2 linked regions of the Homo sapiens genome follow. The protein of the gene in region 1 purifies or fractionates together with the protein of each later gene. This does not show direct contact. Each region holds a gene or a part of one and is shown on either strand. Other genes may lie near its edges.

Region 1 (3,832 bases):
AAACTGGTTCCTATCCCAATTTCTTTCTGTTTGTTGTAGGTGAACTGCTCCTGTTTTCCAGTGTGATTGTCCTGCTCCAGGTGGTATGCAGCTGCCCGGACAAGTGTTACTGTCAGTCATCTACAAATTTTGTAGACTGCAGCCAGCAGGGTCTGGCCGAAATCCCTTCCCATTTACCTCCTCAGACTCGAACGCTGCATTTACAAGATAATCAGATACACCATCTTCCTGCTTTTGCATTTAGGTCAGTGCCATGGCTCATGACCTTAAACTTGTCCAACAATTCCCTTTCAAATCTGGCCCCTGGAGCTTTCCATGGGCTTCAGCACTTGCAGGTTTTAAATCTAACCCAGAATTCACTCCTTTCCCTGGAAAGCAGACTTTTCCATTCCCTCCCTCAGCTGAGGGAGCTTGATTTGTCATCAAACAACATAAGCCACCTTCCCACATCCTTGGGAGAGACTTGGGAGAACCTAACTATACTTGCGGTTCAACAAAACCAGCTTCAGCAGCTTGATCGAGCGCTCCTGGAATCCATGCCCAGTGTGAGGCTTTTACTTCTCAAGGACAACCTCTGGAAATGCAATTGCCACTTGCTCGGTCTTAAACTCTGGCTGGAGAAATTTGTCTATAAAGGTCAGTCATGTCTATTTGGAACCCCCCATCTGTGTGTTACCAGCCTAGGATGAATCTCATCTGTTCTCTGCATTAGAAAGAATGTGGAGGAGTGTGTAAGGGGTGGATTTGGGCTTTTACACATCGGTGCCATTTCACGGTATGGCAAAAGAGTCAAGTGAGTCATTAGAAGGTGTTTAAATTCAGGTTCGAAATTAATCTACAAATATGTTGCATGGAGATAACTTTCACTTGTTTAATTAATATAACAAGAAGTTACTTATCTGGGAGTATGCTATTAAGAAGGAGGACATTCAATCACCACCTGAATAACTGCTCAACCCCAAATAACACCAACCTCTTATTATCAAGTCTGATCCAATTGTGGGTATGGTTATCTCTCTCTGGGATATTTTTCTCTCTTTGTCTGCTTCTACCCATTTGACAACTGTAATTCTTTTCTAAAATTGTCCTTTCTGCTTTAGCAAACACCAATGTCACTGAAATTGGGTGCAACAGGGCCTCTCTCTAAAGTTACTCACAATTTCTTTAACATGATGACAACAGCAAAGCAAGAGATCTCAGACTATTAAAGATGAGGGACTCTGGAAACCACCCAGGGTTAGCAAACTACAGCCCCAGGGCCACAGCCCATCTCCCGTTTCTGTAAATAAAGTTTTATTGGAACACAGCCATGCCCATTCATTATATAATGAGTGAGTGGTTGCTTTGCACTATAAAAGCAGAGTAGTTGTGACAGGGGCTGTATTGTCTATCTGGCCCTTTACAGAAAAGTTTGCCAACCCCTGTTGTCAATGGGCAACAGAGTCCCAGAGAGGTTCAGTGACTTGCCCAAGATCACAGAGCAGAAGCCCAGGTGAGAACAGAAGGCATGGCTTTTGGGTCTTGACCCGACATTCTTTCCTCCACTTCACAGTGCTTCACTCTTCCTAGCTCTCAGCATGATTCATTCATTTCTATATTTGAGTGCCTTTTGTATGCCAGGCACTGAGAAGATGGCAGTGCCTAACCATCACAGAGATTCCATTCTGGTAGTAGAAACAGATGTTAAATAAGATGATAAATAAAGATACATGTTTAGAATAGCAGTTAGTGCTAAGAAACAATGAGGCAGGGGAAGGGGAGAGTGATAGAATGTGGGTCTCATTTTTGATAGGATGGATGGGAAGATGTCTCCAAGGAGGTGACATGGCTGAGCAGAACCCAAAGACTGAGGAGGAATGAGCCATGAGATAACTGGGGGAAGGAATAGTGAACGCAAAGGGCTTGATGAGGGGGAAAACTTGGCTTGGCTGCAGGACAAAAAGAGGGACAAGACAGTGGCCAGTGCAGAGGAAGGGAGTGAGTAGACACAGACAAGACAACACCAGTACTTGGGGGTCAGATCATGCAGAAGTGTGCAGAGAAGGCCAAGATGCTTGGACTTTAAGTGAGATGGAAAGCTCTTGAAGAGTTTTAGTCAAGGGAACAATAGGATCTGATTACAATGTAAAAGGTCACTCTGTAGACTCTTGGGAGAACTGACGAAAGGCTGCAGAAGAAGAACCAGGGAGATGAGGGAGAAGATGATTTCAGTCAGCCAGCGAAGATGATGGTGGCCCAAACCAGGGTGGTGAGACATGATCAATGCTGGGAGATACTTGGAATACTGAACTGGCAGACATTGCTAATGGGTTGGAGTGGATGACTAAGAGAAGACCATAATTATGGGAAAGTCTATTTTGATTTGTCCTGCAGTGGTAATCAAGTAAATGGTGATGCCTTCAGCTGACAAGGGGCAAAGAGGGGACTGGGGGGAGTGAGTGAGTGTGTTGGGGAGGTGGTCAATTAGGACTTCAGCTTGGGGCATGTCAAGTTTGAGATGTTCTGTACATATCCATGGGGAGTCGTTGAGTTGGAGGTTGTATATTTAAGCCCGAAGCTCAGGAAGATGTTGGAGCTACAGACATGAATTAGGGAAGTCAACAGTGTCTGCATGGTTGTAGCGGTTCTCAGCGGGAATGAGGTTAGGGTGAATACAACATGGGTTAAAACGTACGATATTGAATAAATCCTTCTCAACAATGTAATAGTAAATTACATAATCAATATCCAGTCGACATTCAAGCCAACCAGCAACAGGAGCCACATACTATGGCAACATCTTCCTTATAAGAGGTTACAAATAAAATTGTTTACGTCTACAGGTAAAGTGGCTTGAACTATTGTATTGTGGATTAAATTGTAAGCACAGGCCAGCCAACACAGAAAGATAGTTTTCATTAAAGAACATTTCTTGATTAAAAAAAAAAAAAAAAAGTTCCCAGGACTAGGGCACTGGAAGCAACCTGGGATGGGATGAAATGTGCCCTACTCTGCCACAAACTTGCTGGTGGTCTTTGGGAAAATTAGTACACTTCCCTAGCACTCAGTGTCACCAGAGGGAAACTGATAGTTTTAAGTCAGGGAGTTCCTACGGCCCATTCCAGTCCTCAGATTCTGTGACGCATTTCAACACGCCGTCACAACAGAGCTGCATGAGTACAGATCACAGCTTTTCTTCGGAGGAAGGCAGAAATTGATTTGGGGTAATAAGACCTGGATGTCCCAACATAACTAGGAAAAATCCAAATATGTGTCAAACATGGGAGACAGTCTGATTATAGATATATTGAATACAGGCAAAATAAGGGAACAGATATGAGTCAAGATCTTCTTTTAAAAAAAGATATATAAACAAATGCAAACACTACAGGTATTAGGGCAGGCTAACCGACATAACAGACTAGCCCAGACTTTAGTTATATATGCAATAAAATCTGTTGCTCATTCATGGCAGAGTTCAAAGGAAATGGGGGCATGGTCTGCATTCCATGCAGTCATTTAGGGACATAAGACCCCTCGAGCTTGTGATGTCGCCAAGTTTATCACGTGGCCTCTAAGGTCATCCCCAAGTGGGAACAAAATGCATGGCGGATTACACGGGGGCTTTATGGCCTGGAGGTGGCATTAATTAATTCAATTAATTGAATTCCATTGTCCAGAATTCAATCACATGGCCTCAAATAGACCACAAAAAGTGGGAAAATTTAGTCTTCCTGCTGGCCTAAGAGCAAAAAGATGTGCTTTGGTGAATACATAATAATATCTCCTCCAAAGAAATATGCACACAGATTGTATGATTAATATTTCTCTCTATTTACTAGTAAACAAGTCA
Region 2 (2,632 bases), on another chromosome or scaffold:
TCCTCATACAATTACACTGGGGGTTAGGATTTCAACATATGAATTTGAGGGGGAAACGAACCATTCAGTCCATAACACCCCTCAAAAAAAATTACTGTCCTGTGATCTCCTGTAGACTGAGCTATTAGCTTGTGGCATTTTCCTTCTAGATGTTGAATGTTTTAAAGGCAGATTTAGGTCTAATTAATATTTGAAGTGTTCAAAATGTAAATGCATCATACAGACCTAAGAAAACTATTTTCTAAGCAAATCCAAATTAAAGCCTGATTCAGAATAATTTATTTTAAACTAAAACCAAGTAGTCTCTTGTGCCAAAGTAGCAAAATTTTCTGCCAATTCACAGAAAAGGGCAAATTATTATTTATTCAGATGCAGTCCAGAATCTAAGAAGAGGTACAGCCAGATGGATGGACTGGATGACTTAACTATAGCAGAAAAAAGTATAAATTGAAGGTTTTCTTTGTTTTTTTTTTTTTGTTTTTTACTTCTGTGCATTCTGTAATCATTTTGCACAGTGCCATTATATCCCTTCACTTCCTTCAGGTTTTATTCAAATGCTGTCTTCTCTGCGATGCCATCCCTGACTCTCCTATTTAAAATACAAACCCCTTCTCTTGTATTTATATCTCCCTTATTTGCTTTTTCTCCTTAGCACCTATGGTCAGTTGACATACTACACATTCTATTTATTTGTAAATAAATTCTCTCTCTCTTGCTGCTAAAAAGTAGCATGAGGGTAAGTGGATCTTCTTGTCTTTTTTCCTTACTGTATCCCTACTGCCTAGAACAGTATTTGGTGCACAGTAGTCTCAAATTCTATCCAGTCGGCTGAGCGCGGTGGCTAATGCTTGTAAGGCCTCCGCTTTGGGAGGCTGAGGTGGGCGGATCACTTGAGGTCAGGAGTTCAAAACCATCCTGGCCAACATGGTGAAACTCCATCTCTACTAAAAATACAAAAAAATTATCCAGGTGTGGTGGCAGGCATCTGTAATCCCAGCTACTTGGGAGGCTGAGGCAAGAGAATCACTTGAACTTGGGAGGAGGAGGTTGCAGTGAGCCGAGATCACGCCACTGCACTCCAGCCTGGGTGACAGAGTGAGACTCTAGTCTAAAAAAAAAAAAAAATTCTATCCAGTCCATGAATATTTGGGAAAGAGGAATCTTCAGGTTATAGAAGATGCACAAGTTTTTTTCTTAGTAGTTTTTTTGTTTTGAGTAAATATAGCGGTCTGGCGATATTTAATATAGATCCTTCCTAAATTACAAATGCATTCAGAACAAATATACCTTTCTCCTTTTTTATTATAAAACAGATACAAGGTAAAATTCAAATGCAGCAGTAGGGTGTCCTTTGAGAATCTTTTATGCCTGTGTGTATCCTTTAAAGTTTGGTCAACCACACTACTGTTTAGATTTCCTTTAATAACAAAAAGAATTATAGGCTTTTATGTTGATATGACTCAGTAAGCTAACTGCATCTGTTTTGGGTCACTTTAAAACACCTTTGCTTTTGAAAAGGAAAAGTTTCTTTACAGAATTGAGTATGTAACTCTTGAAGTTTACTCTTTCAAAGATTTGCTTTTCTCCTTTTTCCTTTCAGGAGCTGCTGCTCAAGAGGTCATCAAAATAATCACCAAACAATTTGTAATTTTTAATAATACTTACATTTACAGTGGCATGTCACAAACTTCAGCAACTTTCCAGTTGTAGAGTAAGCAAGCACCTTAAGTAGTGTGTTAATGATTGAAACTGTAATTGCCTTCGGGTTGTGCTTTAGTCTGTAAAATTCTAAAGGAGAGCTGCTAAATTGTTTTCTTAATAAACATTTTTCTCATTTGTAATAATGTAGTCTTGTTCTTTGTGGGGAGGGGAAAGGAGACAGTCATTTTCCTAGAAAATGAATCCTATCCATTTCTCACTGAGCATCAATATTGGCTTGCTATTTCAAAGTTACTTGTCATAGATTATCCTTGTGTTTTATTAGAGATAATTAAAAATTTTTTTTCTTACCATCTTCAATAATGAATTTAAGCCATGTGCAGATGTTAGCTATGGACATTTTAGGACCATCATCATTTGTTAAAATGAATAGAATTTAAAAAGATATTTCTGGATATGTAGTTTTCCCAGAAAACAAGACCATCCCCTTGTATGTAGTATTATCTTAATTAACTTGAGTTTTGGCTGCCTAACCTACTTCTTGAAATTTTATGGGGTCATTCTACTCATATTATATATACTCTTAAATTTAATCACATGGGACTAATAGCATTCACCAGCATATTAGAGGGCAAAAAAAAAAAGGAAGTAGTAGATGCAAACAGAGTGGAAATCCAGAATCCAGAAGTGGGGGCAGTTCCCGGTTTTGGGCTTGATGTATTAATACTTAGGGCTGAGGAACGTGGTCCGTGGTGCATGACTCTTAGTAGCTAAGGCCCCTAATCTGCTGCAACTGTCTCTGAGGCCAGCGTCTCTTAAGTGAGAACCTGTTAGATTTGCTAGGGTACCTCACAGGGACTTGGTTTTCCAGACGCTAATGTGTCAGCCATTCTTTGGCTGTTCTTCACTGTATCGGGGACCTTCCCCTCGCCTTCATCGCCTAGCAGTCCCATGGGCTGCATTTTACGGCAGA

What was found.
Region 2: the proteins of LRTM1 (region 1) and NAE1 purify together in Homo sapiens (affinity purification with mass spectrometry; one large-scale study listed by BioGRID and IntAct). This does not show direct contact.

The regions. Positions count from the first base shown.
Region 1 is NC_000003.12:54,921,423-54,925,254, reverse strand, and holds part of LRTM1 (leucine-rich repeat and transmembrane domain-containing protein 1 isoform 1 precursor), read left to right. Parts: intron 1-39; coding exon 40-636; intron 637-3,832.
Region 2 is NC_000016.10:66,802,087-66,804,718, reverse strand, and holds the end of NAE1 (NEDD8-activating enzyme E1 regulatory subunit), read left to right. Parts: intron 1-1,600; coding exon 1,601-1,710; 3' UTR 1,711-1,841; downstream 1,842-2,632. UniProt on the Homo sapiens protein: Regulatory subunit of the dimeric UBA3-NAE1 E1 enzyme. E1 activates NEDD8 by first adenylating its C-terminal glycine residue with ATP, thereafter linking this residue to the side chain of the catalytic cysteine, yielding a NEDD8-UBA3 thioester and free AMP.